Regions from separate parts of the Homo sapiens genome. Here all the other regions are linked to region 3. The links come from fine-mapping of genetic effects on gene expression. A gene starts in region 3. Each other region holds a variant in brackets. All regions are shown on one strand. Distances are between the middles of the regions. Region 1 has its middle 65 kb from the start of PROK2. Region 2 has its middle 12 kb from the start of EIF4E3. Region 3 holds the start of PROK2 (prokineticin 2).

The links. PIP is the estimated chance that this variant, and not a neighbour inherited with it, causes the effect. A credible set is the group of variants that fine-mapping cannot tell apart.
Region 1: its variant is the best candidate, but not a certain one, in a credible set for the expression of PROK2 in whole blood (INTERVAL, PIP 0.89).
Region 2: its variant is the best candidate, but not a certain one, in a credible set for the expression of PROK2 in whole blood (INTERVAL, PIP 0.65).

The regions. Positions count from the first base shown.
Region 1 is chr3:71,845,622-71,854,296 of GRCh38, forward strand. No RefSeq gene overlaps it. Among named protein-coding and RNA genes, the nearest start is that of PROK2, 65 kb to the left of the region's middle. The variant T/C (reference allele first, on the strand shown) is at 5,201.
Region 2 is chr3:71,733,439-71,742,113 of GRCh38, forward strand. It overlaps a transcript of EIF4E3 not described here. Among named protein-coding and RNA genes, the nearest start is that of EIF4E3, 12 kb to the left of the region's middle. The variant A/G (reference allele first, on the strand shown) is at 3,461.
Region 3 is chr3:71,780,559-71,788,936 of GRCh38, forward strand. It overlaps PROK2 (prokineticin 2), which reads right to left and starts at 4,590. Exons shown (of 4, transcript NM_001126128.2): 1 at 4,399-4,590; 2 at 909-1,034. The coding sequence starts at 4,494. It overlaps LOC105377156 (a long non-coding RNA gene), which reads left to right and starts at 4,832. Exons shown (of 4, transcript NR_199161.1): 1 at 4,832-4,965; 2 at 5,078-5,189; 3 at 5,379-5,475; 4 at 5,659-5,869.

The DNA of each region.
Region 1 (8,675 bases), 65 kb after region 3:
CCTTACTATTTAATTATTCAGTTGACTGCTAGAAAGATTAAGCTACCTAAATGGGTTTGTAACTCAGAAATGACAATATATGCTTATTTTAAAAGATAGCCATGTAATTCCAAGACAAACTAGTGGCAATCTAGATTTTTATTATGACAGTAGCAATTTGGAAATTATGCCAAAAGTTCAAAAAAATTGGCAGTCATAAGTTTGCTTTTTTACTTGATAGTCTTGAATATGCTTTCTGTGACAAGTATTATATTCCTGAAACTTCTACACTGAACACCCAGAGTGAATAATTGCATAAAATGTAACAATGAGATATTTATAAATATAATATTTTTCTATTCAACGATTACATTTTTCTATAAGAAGAGTTTGATGTATATTTAATGCTAGACCTACTTTAAAATATGTACACATTACTAAAGGGAAAATGCATTAAAAGAAACCACTGTATTATCAATTTCTGGTAAAGCTTAAAAATGTTGTCATTAATTATAGATGGAGCACTTTTCCTGTGATATATTCCTATTTGTTTGACACCTGGCAGGGCCTGCACCAATTTATTCACTTTCTCTGTTACACAGCATTCAATCCCTGGGGCCATTATTTCTGAGGGAAACCAAGTAACATAACCAGAAGCCTCCATGAATGATTCATACTAGAACACTCTAGAACATGCTGCCCAATGGGATATGCTGACTGACTAATCCAAATTGATGGCTGGAGCTTCTGTGGTGTCACAAGGAAGTGATCCACTTACCAGATCCTCGAGATTAGCTAAACCCTTTCAGCAGCTGCTGAGCCTCATAGGTCTCCCCTTGTCCGCACGTATTATCTGCAACGTTATCGGGATAGAGCATTTCCTAAACAAACGCACGCGCATAAACACTGTAAAATAGCTGCTTGTCTCTGGCACCTCCGAGACACTTAGTAGCGTCTTTATCTCTTTTATATTGAATAACCTCTTCACTAGTATAGAAGCAGTGCATTTATATTTATAGAAAATTAGGAAACACAAACAAAAACTTCACCTTACCATCACCCAGAATCACCATATGTTAGATCTTCGTCCATATGCTTCCGAATCTTTATGTATTTGTACATATATTTGTATTTATATACACACATATTAGTATGTATTCTGCTTTACCAGTGTGAGATGACACTCCACTTACTGTCTTAAAACTTACATTTTCAGCCAATGATCTTTACCTTTCCACTTCAGTACTTTTTTTTTGAGACAGGGTCTCACTCTGCCGCCCAGGCTGGAGTACGGTAGCGCAAACACTGCTCACTGCAGCCTCTACCTCCTGGGCTCAGGTGATCCTCCCACCTCAGTGTCTTGGGTAACTAGGACTACAACTACTGTCACACTGGGCTAATTTTGTTGTTGTTGTTGTTGTTGTATTTTTTGTAGAGACAGGGCATCACTATGTTGCCCAGGCTGGTCTTGAATTCCTGGGCTCAAGTGATCTGTCCACCTCAGCCGAGCCACTGTGTCTGGCCCACTCAGTATATTTTTATGTCATTGAATAGCTAAACCATATTCAAATTTCACCAATTAAGCTAAAAAGACCTTTATAACTGGCTTGTCCTCTCCAGAAATCCTCTCAAGAATCAAATCTGGCTGATATAGTCCTTATTTCTACCCAGTCTATCCTGATTTCCTTTTTGATGACATTGGCTTGTTGAGGACACTGGACTGGTTTTCCTGTGGAATATCTCACCTTCTAGATTTGTCTGATTGCTTCCTTACTGTGCCATGTAGCTGATTCCTGTACCCCTCCATCTCCTGCAAATGATAGGTTAGATCTAAAGGACTGATGGATTCAAGACAAGCATTTTTGGCTAGAATATACCATAAGGGATTCTGTATCTAGAACTACACTACTCAGTGTGGTAGCTACCAGCCACATGTACCCATTTAAATTTAAGCTTAAATAAATTAAAATGAAAAATTCAGTTCCTCAGTTGTATTAGCCACATTTCAAGTGCTCAATAGCCCCATGTGGCTAGTGGCTACCACTTAGACAGGGCAGATATGAAATATTTCTTTCATTGAAGAAAATTCTACTAGACATACTAACTAGAGAATGAGTCCATTTCTCCATCTCTTGAATCTGGGCATCACTATGCAACTTTGTTCAGCCAATAGGATACTAATAAACATCATGCAATCAGAGGCTCGGAAAATGCTTGTGTACCAGGGCTTTCCCTCTTTTGCTATTGAAACCTCGAGACCACCACGTGAAGGAGCTCAGGCCAGCCTACTGGAGGATGAGACACCACATGGAGCATGGCCCCAGCTAGTCCAGATGAGTTCCCAGAGATGTGAGTCAAGCCATCCTAGATCATCTCAACAGACCATGTGAAGGGAGGCCTCAGCCATCCAGCCATCTCTGCTAACTGCCAGACATTTGAGTGAGGTCATCTGGGATCCATCAGCCCCAGCTGGGCCACCAGCTGTCCGTAGAGACCAATAAATTTGGCCCAGACAGAAGAACCAACCAGCTGACCCACAGAGTAATAAAGAATAAGAAATGATTATTGTTTTTAGCCACTAGATTCTTTGAATGATTTGTTACTCAGCAATAAATAACTGACACATGATCAGAAAGGAATTTATATAATGTTACTTTGGTCCTATGTCTTGTTCTGTATCCCACTCACTTAATATATAAATCTTGCCTAAATCAATAATTTCATTAGGTTTTGCAAGATCAGGTTTTCAACCTTTATCGTTTCTTCTACGTTCATTAACTGGTGTTCTTTTGTAAAGTAGAGATTCTCTTCAACAGGTGGGCTAGTTGGCTATCCTGTCATATAGTTCCTACTGGAAAAGGCAAAATGTTTAATTTTTTTCCTTTAATGACCAACTAAAAAGTAAGGAGTGGTTTAATGGCCATCTCGTATAATGTCTTTTCAGGCTTTCTCTTTTTTTAGTATCTTTATGAAGTCACACATTTCATTTATTAAATACATTTTATCTATAATCATTATTTTATTAAATTTTATTGTGGTAAGAAAACAACATGAGATTTCTCATTTACAAATTAAAAATTTGTAAAAAAACCCACAAATTTGTAAGTGTTCAATACATTATTGTTGACTGGGGGCACCATGTTACACAGTAGATCTCTAGAGCTTATTCATCTTGCTTGACTGGAACTTTATGCCTGTTGTTGCCTCTGTCCCAGAGCTCCAGCTCCTGTCAACCACCATTCCGCTTTTTTAAATTTTAGTTTTTTGAGATGGGAGTCTCATTGTGTTGCCCAGGCTGGTCTTGAACTTCTGGGCTCAAGCGATCTTCCTGGCTCAGACTCCTGGATAGCTGGGATTACAGGCATGAGCCACTGTGTGATTCCATAAATTTGACTGCTTTAGGTACTTCAAATATGTGGAATCATGCAATATGTTGCTTTCTGTGACTGCTTTACTTAGCATAATATTCTCATAAAGTTCAGCTATGTTGTCACATATAGTAGAAATTTCTTCTTTTTTAACTTTGAATAATATTCCACTGTGTGGATATACCACATTTCACTATTAATTTTCTCATGAACATTTAGTTTTTTCCATATCTTGGCTATTATGAATAACCATTGTATATGGTATAAGGATCCAATTTCATTCTTTAGCAGATGGATAGCCAGTTTCCCATCATTTATTAGAGACTGTCCTTTCCCCATTGTATATCTTGATACCCTTATTGAAGACCAGTTGACCATGTATTATGCACGGATTTATTTCTGGGCTATTTGCTCTATTGGTCCATATGTCTGTCTTTATGCCAGTATAGACATATATACTATACTGTTTTCATTACTGTAGCTTTGCAATATATTCTGAAATTGGGAAGTATTATGCTTCCAGCTTTGGTCTTCTTTCCCAAGATTGATTTTGAATATTCCTTCCTGTGGTCTTTTATGGTTCCATATGAATTATAGAATTCTGTTTTTGTAAAATATGTCATTAGGATTTTGATATTGTATTGAATTTGTAGATCACTTTGGAAAGTATGAACATTTTAACAATACAGTAGTTCCCCCAACAATTGTCTGCAGGTTTGCTTCCTATGGTTTCAGTTATCCACAGTCAACCACATTCTGAAAATATTCAATGAAAAATTACAGAAATAATTCATTAGTTTTCAATTTTGTGCCATTCTGAGCAGTGTGATGAAATCTCATGTTATGTTGCTCTGTCCTACCTGAGACATGAATCATCCCTTTGTCCAGCATATCCATCTTATATATGCCACCCACCCATTAATCACTTAGCAGTCATCTCAGTTATGAGATTAAAAAACATAGTATATTTAGGTTTCAGTACTATCTGTGGTATGAGGCATCCACCAGAGGCCTTGGAATGTATCCCCCATGGATAAAGGGGGACTTTTATATTAAGTCTTCTAAATGATGAACATGGATGTCTTTCCATTTGTTTGTGTCTTGTTTAACTTCTTTCATCAATGTTTTGTAGTTTTCAGCATTCAAGTCTTTCACCCCCTTAGTTAAGTTTATTCCAGTATTTTACTTTTTTGGTGCTATTGTTAGTACGATTATTTTCCTAATTTCCTTTTCAGGTAGCTCATTGTTAGTGTATAGATATGCAACTGATTTTGATATGTTGGTTTTGTGTCCTGCTACTTTACTGAATTTATTTATTATTAATAGTTCTAAAGGATTTTCTAATGGAGTCTTTAGGGTTTTCTATATATAACTTCATGTCATCTGCAAACAGGGACAATTTTACTTCTTCCTTTCCAATTCAAATGCCTTTTATTTCTTGTTCTTCTTAATCGTTATTCTTTTTGATGCTCAGTTGACCCATCTGTAACCAGAAGAAGCCCCTTCATACTGCCTTCTAAGTTATTTTGACACAAATCTACTAATCCTGGAAATTTACTTGCTCTCTGGTAGAACAAGCCGCCTCCGGCTCACCAAGTATCTTCTTTGCTTCAGACTCGCCATTTCTCTAAGGAGTGCCAGGTCCTTTAAGAAGGATTTTCTTCTATTGAAGAAAATCCAGGTACTGTGGTGTTCATTTCTACTGAGGTGACATGACTTGCAGGCCATTCCATTTATAGAAATATAATTTGGTATAAGGACTTCCTTTCCCAGGCTCCTCATTTTGCTCTTTGTTCTCAAATTAGCTCACAGCAGTTCTCACTCAAGGTGCAACCCTCTCCTGTGTTTGGTCA[T/C]TGGGAGATTTGCAGTTTGTAGGAAATTTCAGCATTCTGCTTTCCTTCCTGTTGCACCATGGTTGATTTCATGCCAGTTCTGCTACCTTGGGGTTTGAGGTTTTCTAAAATCTCTTAGTTTTGCTAAAGATGTTGATGTTGTCCATGAGTTTTGTCTTTTCTTATTCATGATGTTCTGTGTGCTTTTCAGAAACTGTAGTAGAACAATTGAAAACCGAGTGCTACAATCCCTATACTTAATCCTCAATGCGTGGGCAAGTGACCCAGGCCAGGTTCATCAGAATGGTTCATCCTCCCGGTCATGGTTATTAGTCAGAGAAAGGCACTATTCAATCAAAAGCCATGTGGTCCTTTTGCTGGAACTGTTGGGTTAGAGGAGCCTAATTCTTCCCGTGGTCTTTTGTGGTTCCATATGAATTATAGAATTCATATGAAAGCCTGGAATTGCTGATAGCTAATGGAGAGACCCTGACTGACTGAGCCTGAAGCCAGCATAGAGAAGAGAATGGAAAGGTGAAAAGAGATAAACTGCTGAGGACTTCATTTGAGCATCTGGGTCTGGCATTCCCTGGAGCCAGACCAAACCTAGGTTTTTCACTTATGTAATTTTAAAAATTCCTTTTGGTTAACTAAAATAATTAGGATGAAGTGTTTATCCCAGCAAGTGGCACACAGTAAGCCCCCAATATATGTTATCATTGTTATTTTTGAAACCAATTTGAGTTGCGTTTCTATCATTTGCAACTACAATAATAATGACAACTAAGAAAATAATACCAAAGATTTTTGAGAAGTGTGCTAGGTACTTTACATATTACTTCACTAAATCCTCACTTCAAGCCATGAGGTAAGTATTCTTATTCACATTTTATAGAGTTGAAAAGGAACTGAAGCTTCAAGAAGCTTAAGTACTTTGGTCACAGAGCTAGTAAGCTGAGATTTCAACCTTAGCATTTAGTGCCTCAAATCACTTAAAAATTATTTGTGATTTTTAAAATAATTTAAAAATATAGGCACTTAATTGAAATCAGCCAGAAAATCACCTATAACATTATGCTTTGTCAAGAGATATGTCTGTGTGTTTAGAGTCTACGCTTTGTTAATGGCTCATGAAGTTGGAAGCTGCGCTGATTTTCCCAATAGTGCACTGTAATGGCTTTATACCAGATTTTATAACCAAATGCCCAATTTTACTTTGCAGAGCTCTTCATGTTGATTTCTTTGAAAACTGCCAATTCCAACAATTAGCAGAGTAGCTGAACAACTGAACATAGTGGGATAAAGAAGACCAGATTTCTAGGACAATGCCTTATTTATGAGAGGAAATTCTATTCAGCAGCCTCTCGCTTCCAAAGCAATGAAATTTCTTCTCCTAGACAAATAGAACAGCATGTTTCAAAATATGCACTCTTCACCATTTAATGGAAATTTCATGAAAGTGTTACAAATGGAATTAAATTACTATCCATTTTTCTTTTTAAATATGTTCAGTAATAAATAAGTTTAACCAAAGTGGTGTTATCATTATACATTCATTTTAACCCCATTTCTTTTTTTTTTTTTTTTTTTTTTTTGAGACGGAGTCTCGCTCTGTCGCCCAGGCTGGAGTGCAGTGGCGGGATCTCGGCTCACTGCAAGCTCCGCCTCCCGGGTTCACGCCATTCTCCTGCCTCAGCCTCCCAAGTAGCTGGGACTACAGGCGCCCGCCACTACGCCCGGCTAATTTTTTGTATTTTTAGTAGAGACGGGGTTTCACCGTTTTAGCCGGGATGGTCTCGATCTCCTGACCTCGTGATCCGCCCGCCTCGGCCTCCCAAAGTGCTGGCATTACAGGCGTGAGCCACCGCGCCCGGCCTTAACCCCATTTCTTTATGGCACCTTTGTAATAATCATTCCATTAATAAGCTCTAATGCTTTTCTACTTCCTTCAATGGAAAAAAAAAACAGTAAAAGGAAAAAGAAAAAGAATGAAAATACTCTGTCCCATCAACATCTAATTGGAACTTCTCTGGGGAAAGATTTATTTTTTAAGTACGATTATATAGCTTTTAATGTCTAGGATAATTCTCTTAAGTTTACAGCCAGCCTGTGTCTGGAAAAGTAATTAAAATAATACTATGAGTTAGGTACTATTGTTGTCCCCATTTTACAAATAAGAAATCACAGGCTCAGAGAAGTTAAATGAGCTGAGAAGCAGCACACAGCTAGTCAGTGAAAGGATATAAACCTAGATGATTAAACATTTATGCTTGCCGTTTCTACTTTTTCTCTTCTAATGAGTTTATTGAAGACTTGGGAGTTGGAAAGGATAACTCACATCTGCTCCAGGAATTGCCACTTCCAGAGCCTACTGTCCTGAGCTTATCCTCGGGGACTTACCTGCTTCCCAGGAGACCTCCACAAGCCAAGGATACAGCTAAGCCACCCGCCGAGAGATCAAGGTCTCCCATACGGAGGAGAAAAGTTTTCCCTAGCTTCTTATCATTCCCAGGTTGACTTCTCAGTCCCTAGAATGACAGACAGTGCTAACATCCAATTCCAAAGAGGGAGGCCCACCACCGTACCACCTGGTCTGCTCTCAGAATCCTGTTCCATATGGAACGCAGCAGGTCAGATGCTTGGTGCCAGGCATGGTAAAATGGAAAAATGCTGAAGGCTGTGTCTGTTGGGCATGTGCCATCTTATAGAAATGGAAAGTAGATTCCAAACATTCAATAATCTCATGTTACGGTTCATGAGTACCTTAGAATCAACTGAATTTTCACTTTTCATCTATTGTAGGGGATAGGTGTTAGAAGGATCCACGAGGATGGCTTCCACCTTCCAGCAGTGGTCGGCAATCCCATGACTGGAATTGGTCCCTATTGATCTTCGGTGGCATTTTGTCCAAGGTCACTGCTTACCTCCAATCTGATCCTTATTTTGGAGGCAGTGCAGCACAGAGGAAAGAACTAGGCACTGGTATCTCAGAGATTGGGAATGGAATCCCCATTCTGTTTCTCACTAGCTGTATGGTCTTGAGCAAGAAGCTTTCACATTCAGATCTTCAGCTGCCTCATCTAATATCCAATAGTGATAGTGAAGAATAAAGGAGACAATATATGGAGATTATTTAGCACATGCCTGGCACACAGTGGGTATCTTAGAAAGAGTAGCTTTTGTGTCTTCAACTCAGCTTTTAGAGAGCATTCATGTTTTACTGATCCATTTCCTACTGCCCTCCTCGGTAGCCATGAACCTAGCATGTGCCTTAATATGTGTTCAGTAAATATTTGCTGAATGATGAATACGCGAATAAATGAATGAATATGAAAACTGTCTATGATGTCTAGAGGGACATTTGAGCAATCTCATTTTTTAGTCGTGGAGAGCAATATCTGCTATTTGGCAGATAGCATTATCAGGAATCATCAGAAAGCATGCAGAGTTGTGAAATGTCAATGCACCCATCCTTTGAAGAGTCGGCACTTCTGCC
Region 2 (8,675 bases), 47 kb before region 3:
AGGAAGTGTATTGTGCTTTCCGAAGCTTTATTTTAAGCTGAAATAATCATATTTATGACATAAGAAATCTTGATACAGAAAATATAAGCTGATTTGGCAAAATATTAGGAGGTTATGAGTCAGGCTGCAAAAAGACCTCCTGTACCATCTTTCCCTGTACCATATTTAACCCAAGCTTCCTGAGGGGTGGGGAGCTCACCTTTGAGGTCCTCAGAGACTATTATAAAGTACTGCTCATGTACTGGGAAGTCAATAAATATCTGAATAATGAATCCTTCTGTGATTTAAAACCATTCATTAAAGTGTAGATTGAAATACTTTATAAGTCATTTACTTCTTAAGAGCTAAGTACACTAAAGTTTGAGAAGCCATTATCAATTGATGAACAATTAGTAAAGGAAAATAAAGCAATTCTTGAAAGGAAGCTGCATTATTTGTTTTCTAAAAAAAATCATAATTACATGACATTTTTAGAACTCTAACTACTGTGCAAAATGCACCATTCAGAAACAGAAGGACACTTGCAGTGTTTAGGCCAATGAGACCCCTTCAGTTACTGAATCTCTTTTGTTTTACCATCAGCAGGAATTGCATACTCACAATACAGAAAGATCCTGTTAATTTTTCACTCTTTTCCTGTTCATTCTTATTAGTTACATATTATCTACATAATGGCAGGTTGCACCTTATGGTATTTGCTTTAAATTTTCTTAGTGTTTGTGGTAAGACAGTATCTTATTCCCAGAGGCTAAAAAGATGCACATATTGATCATACTAGGTCATCATTACAAAAGAGGAGCTCTCATGGAGGCTATGATGAACATGGTATCCCTCAGATGACTTTATACAAGTATTTGATGTCACAAATATATACTGTGGTTGACAATGATCTTGGAGATAGCTGAGTCACTTTCGTCCTTTCAAAACCTACCAGGTCACTCAGAAATACACTGTGAATTATCCTAAATTTGGGATGAGTCCCTATCATTCCTAAAATGCCTAAGGGTCATGTCTGCTTGCCTTATTGGACTAAAATATTTTATAACACATGAAACATAAATTTGTCAATTAAATGCAGTATCATGTTTTTCATAGTTTGCAAAAGCACAGTTAATGATGCAAATAATTTCCTATTTTTCATTCTGAGGGAAAATCATTAATAAAACCAAACTCCTTATTAGAATTGAAATTCAGCAGTAAGAGGGCACAAGCCACCCATAAAGGCAAGATATAAATTAGCAGTGAAAAAAACAAGCCAACTGATTATAACGTCCAGATGGAAATGAATAACTGAATCATTCTTTGTCAAATCAAATAGCATCTTAATAAGTTGTTGCATCATCTCTGTTGATTCAATTTAACTGGAAGATATCAGAAAATGACTATGACCTGCACAAGTATCTTCATTTCTCGTGCTCATTAGTATTTGGCCTATGAGTCCTCTCCTTTTATTTTGGAGGTGAATTCACCTCTAAAATGGTTTTTTGGTTTCTAATCCTCAACATCATCCCATGTTAAAAAGAAAACTGGCCCCAGGCTGGAATGAAATTATTGGAATTAAGAAACTGGGGCCCCAGTGGTTGGTCAAATCTTTTATCAGAGGAAGAATTCAAGCACTTCTTTTACCAGGCAAGCTGGTAAGTACAAGTTGTCATGGAAACAGGATGTATTCAAATTATATGAGGAATGACGTTCCCCATCTAACTAGGTGTTCATCTCATCTAAATGGGGAGAGATTGGTGTAGCTGAAATCCATTATATTTTTTTCAAATCTGCATTAAAAACAATAATTTCCTTTATTTTACATAGGAGTACACAGGCACAGAGCCTCATTCTCATAAAACGAAGAATTAAAATTACTTGCAAAAGAATTGGTGCGTAAATAAAAAGACATAAAACGAAAATGAATCCTATGATATAAATCTATTGATGCATAGTGAAGGGTGGGAGAATGGAAATCAGATAATATAATACCTCCATCTATCATGGGACATATTTTTCTTCAATAGCATTAGTAACTAGTTTTTCTACAGAATGATCCAGGCCAGAGCAGTTCTCTGCAAGTTGAGGAGACTTGCTAATAGGTGTAATGTCACCACCCTGATAACAGCAGAGCACCTTGTGAATCCACAGATTCCTAACAAAGAAACGCAATACTGTGCTAAGCAGGTACTTCCCACTCCTTAATAAGGCAATTGTTGAAAAACACATGGCACAAACTAATTTTGTGGGGAGGTTATTAGAGCATGAAGGGCCCATGAAGTCACAGCTCTACTTAAGAGGCAGCCTGAAGTTCTTTCTGGATCAAAGTAACCCAGAACATCTTTTCATTTTTTTTTTTTCAAGTGAAGATCATTTATCCACCTCCCTCCAAAAAATGAGAAGAAAACATTTTCATGTTTTACTGGTTAAAATGCTGAGGTCTTAATGAAACTCTTGTCCAAGCACTTAAGATAATAGTAATTCAAATAAAAATACCAATAGCTCCAAAATCTACAAAGAAATTTTTTAATTCAACAATAAGAAAATGAACACCATGATTTTAAAATTGGACAAAAGACCTGAGCAAACATCTTGCTGATGATATACAGATGGCAAATAGGTACCAAGAAAAGATGCTTAATATCATATGTCACTGGAGACTGCAAATTAAAACAATGAGATACCACTATACACCTATTAGAATGTCTAAATCCCGAAACGTTGGTAACACCAAATGCTGGTGAGGATGTGGAGCAACAGGAACTCTCGCTCAATGCTAGTAAGAATGCAAAATGGTACAGCCACTTTGAAAGACAGTTTGGCAGTTTATTACAAAACTAAACATACTCTTACCATATGATCCAGCAATTATACTCCTTGGTATTTACCCAATTGAGCTGAAAATTTACGTCCACACAAAAACCCACACAGAGATGGTTATGGCAGCTACATTCATAAATGCCATAACTTGAAAGGAGACAAGATGTCCTTTAGCAGTCAGTAGATCAGTAAACTATGGTACATCCAGACAATGGAATATCATTCACTGCTAAAAAGCAATGAGCTATTACACCATGAAAATACATTGGGGAAACTTTAATGCATATTACTAAGTGAAGAAGCCAATCTGAAAAGCCACATACTGTATGATTCCAACTAACATAACATTGCAGAAAAGGCAAAACTATGGAGACAGTTAAAGGATCAGGGGTTGTCAGGGGTTCAGGTGTAGGAGAGGAAGGAATGAATAGGCGGAGCAAAGATTTTTATGAAAATAAAACTATTCTGAATGATACTATAATGGTGGATACATGTCATTGGACACTCATCAAAACCCATAGAATATACAAATCCGAGAGTGAGCCCTAATGTAAACTATGGACTTTGGTTGATAATGATGTGTCAATATAGGCTCCTTGATTATAAAAAATGCACCCATCTGGTGTGGCATGTTGATAATGGAGAAGGCTATGCATAA[A/G]TGAGGATAGGATAAATGGAAAACTCCTTGTACCCTCCACTCAATTTTGCTGTGAACCTGAAACTGCTCTAAAAAAAGAAAGTCTATTAAAGAAAAATATCAACAGCAACAATAGCTACCATTTTGTGAATCCTTAACTATTCTCATCTAATTCACATATCAACCTGATGAGGTATTAACAAGTATGATTATCATCTCCCACTTTACACACCGGAGGCTCAAAATGGTTAAATAACATTCCCATCATCACCCAGCAAGAGGTATGGAGTTCAAACCCTAAGTCTGCCTGTGCTCCTAACAGTTGCAACTTCAGGAAACTTTAGGAAAAGTTTCACTTCTCCGAAGTCATCTCTATGATCTGGAAAATGAGGTGAGTCTTTGACTTATGAAAATATTCAAGTTATGCCCTAAATGTTCAAAACAGAGCACTGTGGCAGAAGGTGCTTGAATATCTGGTGTACAAAACATATGACCACCTATTAAATAAACAATTTAGAACCTGGAAAATATCAGAGTTCAACTACAAATTAATAGCAGTCTAATTTTTACTGTAAGGTGGGTTGAGCCACCTGCTTTTAGAGAGTGACTGCTTAAGAGGAATAAACCCTTGGATTCAAGAATCTCAATGAACTCCAATCACAAAAAACATGAAGAAAATCACACCAAGGCAGGGCAAGGGCATAATCAAACTGCTACAGTGCAGAAAAAAAGACACATTTTATACAGAGGAACAAAATAAGAATTAGGCTGGGTGTGGTGGCTCACATCTGTAAACCCAGCACTTGGGGAGGCTAAGGCAGGGGGATTGCTTGAGGCCAGGAGTTCAAGACCGGCCTGGGTAGCATAGCAAGAACTCTCATCTCTACCAAAAAACAAACAAACAAACAAACAAACAAAAAACAACAACAACAGAGATTTTTTTCATAGGAAATCATACAACTAAGATGATAACAGAACAATCTCTTTAAAGTACTGAAAGAAGAAAACCTGTCAACCTAGAATTCTATACTCAGTGAAATATCTATTCAAAAATGGAGAAGATTCTCTGCCAGAAAGATGGAATAAGACATGCTTTCTCAATTCCTCCCACGAAGTATAGTGAAAAACCCTGAACATTATATAAAATAAACATAAGAAGACTCTGAAAGAGGCCAAAAAGTGGAATACCAGTTAGGGACCTCAGTAGTTAAAGAACAACACAGCAATAACTTCCCTGGGTTTTCTTTTTGTCTCATATCTCTTAGACTCAGAGATGGAGAAGCTGGCAACCTGAAAATGCTAACAAGCGCAGACAAGAAGAGTCTAGTTTCTCTAGCCAAAGGAGCAGCCTTGCAAGACAGAAAACTAACTATGCCAGCCAAATGCAACAGAAAAAACTGTGATCCTTCCCCTACCTAAGCCAGCAAGGCCAAGTGAGAATCTTAGACTTTTACCCCCACCAGGTAGAGTGGATTAAATAACAAGCAAATACACAACAGCAAAAAAACGTGACGCAACAAAATGCTATTTATAAAAAACTCACTTCAAATACAACAATGTGGGTAGGTTGAAAGGGAAAAAAAATGAAAAAAGAGATATCATGTAACAATAACCCCACAAAGTTAAGAGTAGCTATATAAATATCAAATAAAGCAGATTTTAGAGTAAAGTTAACAGAGACAGAGAAGGACATTACATAATTATAAAAGAATCAACCCTCCAGGAAGACATAATGATCCTACATATATGTGCACCGAACAAGAGAGGCTCAAAATACATGAAGCAAAACTTGACAGACCTGAAAGGAGATAGGCAATAGAAAATTATAGCTGGGAACTTCAACAGCCCACTCTCAGCAATGGATAGAACTGCTAGACAGAACATCAGCAAGGATATACAAGAAATGAACAACAAATCAGACAGCAGGATCTATTTGTCATATATAGCACTTTAGCAGAACACAATTTTTTTTTCAAGAGTTCATGGAATATTCACCAAGATAGATTACATTCTGAACCATAAAACAAAACTTAACAAATGTAAAATAAATCAATACCAGAAAAAGAACCAGAAAATTTCCAAATGCCTGAAAATTGAACAGTATATATATATATATATATATATATATATGGGTTAAAAAGGAAGTCTCAAAGAAAATTCAAAGATACATAGACCTGAATGAAAATGAAAATACAACATATTAAAGCATGTCAGATGCAGCTAAAGCACTACTGAGAGGGAAACTTACAGCACTAAATGCTTACATTACAAAAGAGGAAAGGTTTCAAATTAACAGCCTAAATTCCTACATTAAGAAACTAGGAAAAGAAGAGCAAAGTAAACCCAAAGCAAGCATAAGGAAGAGAAAAATAAAGAGCAGAAATTAATAAAATAAAAAATTAATAAAATCAAAACAGAAAAATAATAGAGAAAATCAGTGAAACAAAAACAAAAAGAGAGAAATAGAGATGTTTTCAGATATGCAAGAGCTGAAAGTATCCACTACCAGTAAATCAACACCATAAGAAATGTCACAGGCTGGGAGTAGTTGCTCATGCTTGTAATCCCAGTACTTTGGGAGGCCAAGGCCAGAGGATCACCTGAGGCTATGTGCCCCAGACCAGTCTGGGCAACATGGTGAAACCCTGTCTCTACCAAAAAATTAAAAAATTAACCAGGTGTGGTGGCGCATGGCTGTAGTCCCAGCTACTCAAGAGGCTGAGGTGGAAGGATCACCTGAGCCTGGGAGATTGAGGCTGCGGTGAGCCGTGATGGCACCACTACACTCTAGCCTGGGTGACAGAGTGAGACTCTGTCTGAAAAAAAAAAGAAATGTCATGGGAATTCCTTCAAGAAGAAGGAACATGATGCCAGAAGGGAACGTAGATGTACAGAAAGAAACAAAGGGCACTGGAAATGATAACCACATGGGTAAAATATAACATAATTTTGGTATTTTTAAAATCTCTTTAAAAAATAATGACTGTTTAAATAAAAATAATAACAATGTACTATGGGCTTTATAACATGAATAAAAGAAAAATCTATGACAATAACAGCACAGAAGTTGGGAGGGAGAAATGAGAATATGCCACTGTAAATTGTTATAGTGTATGTGAAGAGGTATAATATCACTTGAAGGTAGACTGTGATAAGTTAAAAATGTACACTGTGAATCCTAAATAAAGCACTAAAATAACAAAGCAAAGAATTATAACTAATAATCCAACAAAAGAGATAAAAAGAAATTATAAATAATATTTAATTAATCTAAAAGAAAGCATAAAAATAGGAAAAAGGAAGCAAAGAGCAGTTAAGACAAATAGAAAACAAAAAGCAAGATGACAGATTTAAATCTTACCATATTAATATTCGCATTAAATGTACAGTTTAAATATTCCCAATTGAATTTCAGCCATTATTTGGTTGAATATAAAAGCAAGAACCAACAATAAGGCTGCCTACAAGAAATGCACTTTAAATATAAAGGCAACAATAGATTAAAACTAAAGGACAGAGTGTGCATTTTTCTTTCTGCATGTAGTAGACTCAAACATTCCATTTAACAGATATTGGCCAGTCATGGTGGCTCCTGCCTGCAATCCCAGCACTTTGGGAGGCCAAGGCAGGTGGATCGTTTGAGTCCAGGAGTTTGCGACCAGCCTGGGCAACATGGCAAAACACCATTTCCACAAAAAATACAAAAATTAGCCGGGCATGGTGGTGTGCACCTGTAGTCCCAGCTACTTGGGAGGCTAAAGTGGGAGGACACCTGAACCCAGGAGGCAGAGGTTACAATGAGCTGAGATCGTGCCACTGCACTCCAGCCTGGACGATAGAGCAAGACCCTGTCTCGAAAAACAACAAAACGAAACAACCAAATATTTACTGAGTACCTACTATTGTCCAGGAATATATGAGAAAACCTGTTAAAGGAACAAAAGAATTGTAAGAATTCATTAAAAACCACACATCCCAGCCGGCCGCGGTGGCTCACGCCTGTAATCCCAGTACTATGGGAGGCTGAGGTGGGTGGATCACAACGTCAGGAGATCAAGACCATCCTGGCTAACATGGTGAAACCCTGTCTCTACTAAAAATGCAAAAAATTAGCCGGGTGTGGTGGCATTCACCTATAGTCCCAGCTACTTGGGAGGCTGAGCCAGGAGAATGGCTTGAAACCAGGAGGCAGAAGTTGCAGTGGATGTGACTGCACCACTGCACTCTGGCCTGGGCAACAGGGTGAGACTCCATCTCAAATAAAATAAAATACAATAAAAACAAAAAAACACATCCATGCACATGCACATGCACGCGCACACACACACACACACACACATCCTGGAATCCCAGGCATAGATTGTAAGCAAAAGTAGGAGTTACATTGATCCTTAGCTTGATGTTATGAGCATATCCTACAATGAAATAATTTTTAAAGTAAAAAAAGAAGGTACATTGTGCTAATTCTAATCAAAAGAAAGCTGGAGAGGCTATATTTATATCACACTAAGTAAATTCCGGAGCAAAGAATATTATTTGGAATGAAGAGGGTCGATTAGTAATATAAATGAGTCAGTTCATCAAGAGGATATAATAATTCTAAATATTTTTTACTCCTGATAACAGAGCCCCAAGATACATGAAACAAAAACTGTTAGAAGTGCAAGGAGAAATACAAATCCAGAATTATAGCCAGAGATTTCAACACTCATCTCTCAATAACTGCTAGAACAAGTAGACAGAAATTTAGTAAGAACATAAAAGATTTCAACAACACTATCAACCATCTTGACCCAACTGACATTTACAAAACATTTCACCCAACAACCATACAAAACACATTCTTTTCAAGGGTACACAGAATGTTTACCAAGATAGACCATATTCTGGGTCATAAAAGTCTTGATAAACTTAACAGAACTCAAGTCATACAAGTATGTTCTCTGATACAGTGGAATTTAATTAGAAATCAATAATAGCAAGATCTCTGGGAATCCCCCAAATACTTATAAACTAAATAACACACTTCTCTATAACTCATGGATCAAAAAAGAAATCAAAAGGACATTAGGAAGTATTCTGAAATGAATGAATATAAAAAAACACCTATCAAATTCATGGAATTCTACCAAAACAGTTCTTAGGGGAAAATTTATAACACAAATGCCCGAATAAAGATCTCAAATAGATGGACTCAGCTTCTGTGTTAAGAAACTAGAAAATAAAAGCAAATAGG
Region 3 (8,378 bases):
CCTAGGACTTGTTGCAACGCCACTGGAGGCACTTTACCAATGGGAAAAATGCGGAGGTGGGACCAGAGGAAGGCAATGCAACCTGGCATTCCTGGGGTGCTCTGTTGAGACCACACTGTGTTTCAAAGGTTTTCAACCAGAAGGCCAAGAACCTCCAGCTCCACATGCCTTCTGCCTCCCACCCACCCGCTTCCTCATGTAATATAAACCTTCCTGACCCCTGTAGACAGGTGGGTCTGCAACCCTTGGAGATACAATCTCTCAAACCCTGTCCAATCCTGCCACCCTATGATCATGCCACTACTGTTAATAACTTTTCAAAAGTGTTATTTAGGTCACTGTGATATTGAGCTGACAGATAATAAAGCAAATTGGAAAATTAAATATCATCGATCTCTAAAATTTTGAAAAATGTGTCCTGTAGGTAGAGTCAAAATATAGAATATTTAAACTAACATACAAGAGTAATTGTATAATCGATTTTCTAAAAAATCCCAAAACACAGAGCTTCCTTACTTCTGCCTTATCAGTAGATCTAATATTAAAAGCAGTCTTTTTAAGAACTTCTATACTCAGATTTCTGCAAAGATGCATACTAGAGTATAATATATATTTTTGTTCTAAATAACTTTTAAGCAAATTCATGTGTTGCAAATTATATTGGTAAAATGCTTCTAACACCATGAGAGCAGTAACATGAAAACTATCACTGGAATAAGAAAGACAGAGGATACAATTCTTTGAAATGAAAGGGGAGAGGAGAGGGGGTAGTTTTACACTGTTATCCTTGCTAATGTCCAATATTCATTTTGTTTGTCGAGCACGTTACCCAGTCCTTCATGTCATACAGACCCTGCTCAGAGTTACCACAGTAGAACCACCATGAATACAAATATATATATACTAACTTTACGAGTCAGTGGATGGCAGCTGTCTCCCAGTTTGCCCATAGGTGTGCAAATCCTTATGCTCTTGACCCAGATACTGACAGCACAGCACATGCCTCCACCACATTGGGAGTCCTTGTCACAAGCCTGAAATGTAATAAACAAACAGATAAATATAGATAACAGGAAAGACTCAGGCTAAGGAAACCTAAAATTAGCAGTGAAATGCCCTTTAAATATCTAAACACTTGGACTTTAATAATCAGGTATATTTTTTAAATGATAACCTTCATTTACTTGTATATAGCTATTATAAAATCTGATCAGAATAGCTATTTCTCATTTTTCGAAAGTGGGCTAAATTCTAGCCCCTGGATTATGAAAATCTTAAATAAACATAAGATTTTTTTTTAAATGAAATCAGCTCTCTTTTTCCAGTGCTTTATGGCTGAATTGGCTTTGAACTTGAAGAACAAGACTATATTACTCTTATACTACACATGGCCATTAGGAACTACATAAATGGAATCACAAGATTTTGTGACTATTAACTGCAGAATACACTGGGGCCAATTTAAAAAAAGAGATTTAAATAGTCTCTAAATCTGGCATGAAACACTCCAGACCCATAAAGGCACTGATGTAAATTTCAGAAGTGCTCATTTTCCCCTTCAAATATTTGCATTTTGGTTCAAGAGACTTGACGTTTCTCACACCACTGACTTGCTTTTTCACCATTTTCTCTTTAAAGAAGTCTCATAGTTTGAAAGTGGACAGACCAAGATGCTTGCCTTATGTTACTCTTCCTTCAGGTGAATAAGCTGCAAAGAGCAAATTACTGGCTTAGCATAAACATATATGTACATTACAAAATCAGCTAACAATCCTGTAAGATCCATCAAATTAAGAAATGCAAGTAACAGGTGCAATTGTCAATAGTAATTACTCAAGTCACCTGCTTTCAATATAAAAGTTGTAAATACATACAATGAAACAATCAACTATGGAGGAATTTCCATACTCTAGTAAATAGAAATAAATAATAAAATCTAAATCTATTTGCATGAAAATGGATCTGAAGAACTATTATTCTTTCCTAGAACCAACAAAAAATAGAATGCTTTGTTTGAACCGTGGGCAGTAATCTGTTTTGGTAGTGATAAGATAAAAACATCCTGTACTATATATGTAAGAAACTAAAACCTCTATCATCTAGGCACAAATTTAAATGTACAATTAGTGGAAACAACTAAAACAGTCCTTCAAAATTCTTAGTTTTGAGGACAGTCATAACTTCTCAAGATATAAAAATATGGGTACATTCTTAACATTATTTCTCATTAAAAGTAACCAACTATTTTGCTTTAAAGTTCATTTACTTCCCTCATTAGAATTTATTTCTCAGTCTATTTAAACAAAGTATCTGGATAAAAGCTAAAAATTTCACCTTGAGGTGTTTGGATTTTATAGGACAATATGTAAATGTTTCAATTTTCCAATTTTTATCTGCATGCCAGAAATCATGTATATGTAGCCATTACATCCCATAAATAAGATGTCTAGTCAATGATCTTTTACAATATAGTTTTAACAAATCTATGTGGGCATATAAATCAATTTCAAAATACCTACATACACTACCCAAAAAACTGTGGATGTCAGGTGAAAGTTTTAGCCAGCATTTTATTTCAACAGATGCTCAATACCTCGAATTTTGAGGCCCCATGAGCTTTTTTTTATGAACCAATCAAAAATCCAGCCAAAATCTTTTAAAATTCAATCACCTGGATGTTTAACATGCTATACACAATGTATCTTGATAAGTTACTGAGTTTTTCATTTGAATCCAGATGGTTCCTGTCATGGAGACATAACTACATTTTATTGCCCTGTTGCTTTAGAGACATTTTTAAAATTCTCTTTTTGTAACACTGAGTTAAAATAACAACAACAAAAACAGCACACATAACTATATAATAAGCCCAGTCTAAGCCTCTCTAACAGATAGACAGCCAATGTGATAAAATTTTATTTTGTAACAAAAGCTTCAGTTCTTGGAAAATTTACAAAGAGTTGCATAGGTTTATATATTTTTAATTAGACAGCTGTTTCCTAATGCCCTTCATCCTTAACCCATTGCAAATCTATTCAGATAGTGTTGTCCTGTGAATGGAACAAAAAGATACTTATATTGCAAAGGGATCTTGGGCTCAGAGGATTAGGAGAAACTTTAAATGAGCCAGCAGGAGAAGAGGGAGAAAAAAATCCAATCATGTTTCAATTCTCATGTATTAGAAAGACCTGCAAAAAGTTTTTCTCAACCACATGGACTGGCAAAGCTATGCAAGTAATTTTTTGAAAAAATCTCTTTTCTAATAAATATCACAGAGCTTACAGTTAAATATCTGTTGGATATATACAAATGCTGTCATAGCAAAAGGACTTTCAAAATTCTATAAACCTAATAACTAATATAGAGAAAATAGAGCTTGATTTTTTCAAGACAAAGATACTTCCTTTAAAGTCAAATGATATTATCTATGTATCAACATTTCAAACATAGACGTTTTATTTAAATCCCATTATGTGCACTTAAATATTTGAAGTAATTTAATGAAGGTGTGAAATAATTCCTCACTTAAAAAACAGTAAAGAAGTTGAACAACCAGGAAATGATAGCAGTTTTGCCTTGTTAATGTAAACTAGACTATTTAGTATTGTACTGCAAACCCAATTTTTTCAGATCCACACAAAATTGTTGAGAGTGGGAGAGAACTGAACTAGTTCCTACTTACAGAAAAGATGAAAACATCGTCTCTAAGTTTAAACATCTACACAGCAACCTACTCCATCATTATGCTGGAGCACTGGAGGTGCTTTGCCAGGAATTAGAAATTTAAAACTTTTATGGGGATACCTCAAGACCCTGAGCGCGGGGGAAAGCCCCGGAACCCAGAAGGAAGCTCCCACAATTGCTTTTCAAAGCGCTCACATGGCCCTGGACCAAGCGATTTCAAAGGGTTTCTGCGGAGGACGCATCGGGGAGCAAACTCTTTGACTGTAGGATTAAGACTCTGGGCACTTGGGGAATTCGTCTTGGTCCTTTGCATTTCAGGAAGGGGCCGTCAAATTTTAAGGTTCGAGGTTGGAGAGCCTCCAAAAGTACTTGAGAAGACTCAGAGAGAAACTTCTTTCAGCCTAACAGAAGAAAAATGCGAGGAGTGAGGCCGTGGGTGATGAGGGAGAAGTAAGCGGGAGAAGGTGGTAATAAAGGTGGTGGGCGACATCCTTGTCACTGTTTCTTCCAGGACGCGCCCAGTGTCCCCAGCCGTCTGCTGCTTTTGGATCTGGGTATTTTCCCAAGTGCACCAAGGGGCGACAGGGGCAGGTGTCCCCGCCCAGGGCGACCCTCCCTTTGCCTCTAGCCTGCCCTTCAGGGTCCCCGTCCCAAGCCCCCTGGGCACATCCCAGGCGCGCATCAGGGGCAGACAGGTGCGCCCGGGCCGCTTACCCCGGTGATCACGGCGGCGTCCCCAGCGCGGGGCGTGAGCAGCAGCGGCGGCAGCAGCAAGAGGAGCAGGAGTGGGGCGCAGCACAGGCTCCTCATGGCGCCCTCGGGACTGGGCGGCCGCCGGAGGCAGTTGGGGGCGCGGGGCCCGGGTGCGCTGGGTGGAGCGCGGAGCGGCGGGCGGACGGGCGCGGCGGCTCCCGCGAGCCTCCGGGCCGTTATAAAGGCTAGCCCCGCCGTGACTCACGCCGGCGCCCGCCCGGCAGCACACGCGGGGGGCACGGCGCGGGCACACACCCCACGCCCCACGCGCACACGCGCGCCCGCCTCGGCCCGGCCGGCTCCCAGACGAGCACGTGCTATGCGCGGCCCCCCGCGCCCCCGCCTCGGGCGCCACGCAGGCAGCGCTCCCGGCGGGGCGCCCCGCTCTGCGCCGTTCCCTCCGCCGTCGCCCAGCCACCGCCTTTCGCACGCGCCGGAACCGCTTTTGTGGTCTCCGAGACACTCATTTGCTGTCCTGGTTTCCAAAGCTCCACGTGCTCAGCGCCGAAAACTTGCAAATCATTTGCTGTACAGATGTTTAGGGGTCGCCTACTACGTGCGGGGCGCTGTGGACACATAGGGGGCGGGGGGTGGGTGAGGGGGACACAGCAGCCCCTGAATCCATTCGTTTGTTCAGCAGGTCTATACTGGGCGCCCGCTGCGTGCCAGGTACTGCCACCGGCTCTCTCCTCACGGTGGAATAACTTAACAGAGAAGACAGACATCAATCAAATACCCTGGAAACGTGGAAGGCAGGGGAAAGAACAAAGGGAGAGCAAAATCGCCCCAATCCCACATCACCCGCGACGTGAAAGGATTTGTCCTTCCAGCTGCGGGACTCCTATTTGTTTATTTCAAGTCAGAGGCCTTCCCTTTATGCCCACATCTGTTCCCGACCCTCTCCTCTGATTTTCCTCACATGTATTTCCTCCCCTCTTCAGCCCCGCGCCAGCTCCAGGCACAGCCGTTCAGGGTGATGCCAAAGGGAAATGAGAACGCCTGGTTTCGAGTGCCAGCCTGAGGCCCCTTAAGCCCTAGGTACGCAGCTCTCTCTTCTTTCTTAAACTTTCCAGCCCAGGAAAATCACCCTTCGGTTTTACAGATGCGATAGGGCGTTATTGTGATTCCTTCATTCACGTAAACATGAATTGAGTGTCTAGTGGGTTCCAGGCACACCAGGAAAGAATAAGTGACAGATTTGCCCTCCATCTCTCATCCTAGCCTGGCTCCAAAAACTGCAGCCTGTTTCCCTCAACAAAAATGACGTCAAGAATACCTAGATGTGACCACACCGAACTTGCTTGCCCGTTTTGGGAAACCCAACTTTCTTCCTGAATAGTCAGAACCTCTGGCTTTCCTGGTCTCTTAAGAACCGCAAACTATTGAAAAGCAGATGCGTCTTTCAGCCTCTTTAATAAATGCAGTAAGGAGAGTTGGGACAGAGTTACTTTCAGACTGTGGGGCTCCCCCGTGCCAAAGCATTCAGACGAAATGTGGGGGATAGCGGGGGGAAGGCAGGCAATTATCTGAATGTTAAACAGCTGAATATTTGGAAACCCCAATCTTTGGCTGATTTTTAAAAACCTTTTTCACACGTGTTCTCATGTTTAAAAAACGCCTTGAACAGAAAACACAAAAGGAGTCAAACCCTTTTTTCAACTTAAAAAAATGTTAAAATTGGACTCACAGTGGAGTAAGTAGAAACAGTAGCAAGTGACAGACTTGTGGAAAGTTTCCTTTTCCAGTCTCCATGCCAACGCTAGCTCGGGAATGCTGCCGGGTAAATGTAAAAACCAGTCAACATGGATTTTAACATTCCTATGACTTTCTTTTAATGGTCTATTTCATATTCGCTACTATTGAATGCCAGCTTGGGTATTCCCTGCTTCTTCAAGCATAGAAAATATGATATGTCTACACAGGAAAAATCAGATTTCAAAAGTGGCTGGCTTCTTACACAGCTGTTTGGAAAACAGTCCTCATAAGGCTGTTTTGAAACAAGTTTAAAAAAAAGAAATAAGTTTGGAAACACTTAAAAATAGGGTTGTTTAGTTTCATGTTCTTTTGGAAATTTTAATTGCTTTAATGCTTTAGGAGAGAAATGAAGGCTCTTGATATGTCATCTTTGTATCTGAGGCCAAGTTTGAAAAATGAAGTCTGACTTCAATTGTTATAAAGGGAAAAATGAAAAAAAAAAAGAGTTTGGATTAGTCCATTAAAAAAGGTAGTTGGGACAACTTAGCAACAATGACATAGAAATGAAACAGTAGTTTATTGATTCTTTTCTATTACTGTAACCTGTTGATATTGCCACATGATCACTTCTGCCCAGGCATAACTGTATTAGGTGAAATGAGCCTTGTGTGTGTAAAGTGTAGCCTACCATATTCCAGCAGACCATCAAGGCTCAGCTTAAACGAAAATGCAATCTAGGAGCGTCTATAGAACCCAATGTTTGTGAGACAGGCTGATCAGGATTGGAATCCTGTGTGACCACTGGGCAAGTTACACAACCTTTTGAAGCCTCTGTTTCCGGTCTTGTAAAATGGTTATAAAATACCAACCTCATGGGGTACAACCCCTATGGAATTTAATAATACCTGCAAAATGCTTATCACAGTGCCTGGAACAGACTGGGAGCTCTGTTAGGGTTACCTCTTATTAAGCCTTATTATTTGGTCTCCCCTGACAATTTCAGCCAATGCTGATATAAGTCTTTTCTGTCCTGCCCACTATATTAGATTGTACACTTTTCATGATTAGGATCCTTGTGTCTAATTTTCTATGCATCCCTCTTGGCACACAGCACGATAATAGGCATATGGCAGGCATTCAGTAAGTGACCAGCAACAGGAATATGTCCCATGAAGGACAGTCCAGAGACAGTTACGAGAAGATCATATACAGTACAGACTCATGTCATGTATATGAATCCGTTAAAGGTAGTCACCAAAAAGCAAGAGAGATGGAAGCTTTACCTGGTGCAGATGATTCAGCCTGTCTCTTTACTTGGGGGCCACGTGACTGAAATGAAGTGAGCTGGGAGACACAGGCCTGTCTCACGGCAGTCAATTTGGGACTCAGGCTGACTGATAAGGCTCCATTTCAACATGTGCTTCATGATTGCCAGTGTAGTGGCCTATACTGTGACCCCTAGCAAGTTATTTTCAAGGCCTAAGCCCTGGTACCTGTGGACGTGACCTTATTTGGAAATAGGGTTTTTGCAGACGTAATCAACTTAAGATGAGGTCATGCTATATTAGGGTGGGTTCTAAATTCAATGGCTGGTGTCTTCATAAGAGAAATGGGAGGGAGAGCTGGATACAGAGACACAGGCTAGACTCCCCCCACCCCACCCCCCCCACACACACGGGAGAACATCAAGTGAAGATGGGGGCAGAGATTGGAGCAATGCTTCTACAAGGCAAGGAACACCAAGGATTGCCAGCAGCCATCAGGATCTGAAAGAGCAAGGAAGGATTCTTCCCCAGATCCTTCACAGGGAGCACGGCCTTGTCAGCCCCTTGGTTTTGGACTTTTAGCCTCCAGAACCACGAAAGAATAAGTTTCTATTGTTTTAAGCCACCCAGTTGTGGTGATTTCATTATGGCAGACACAGGAAACTAACATAGTTGGGTGCAGCCAGAGGGTTGTACACCAGCTTTCTCTGCCTGGAATTCATGCCTGTCACTTTTGCTCACTTTTTAGTGACCAAAACAAGCCACATGACAATCTGTCTTCAAGGGGACAGACAGTGCAAGTCTGTCACTGGTTTCTGAAGACAACAAGGTATCAGGTGAGCAGTGCTATATTCTACAGGAAATGAATCATTCATGGCTTGGACTCCTTAATGAGCATAATGAACTTTGAATTATATTAGTAATTGCTATTATAAATAATAATGTGTAATTTCCTTTGTATTTTTTCTAGTACAGCATTCT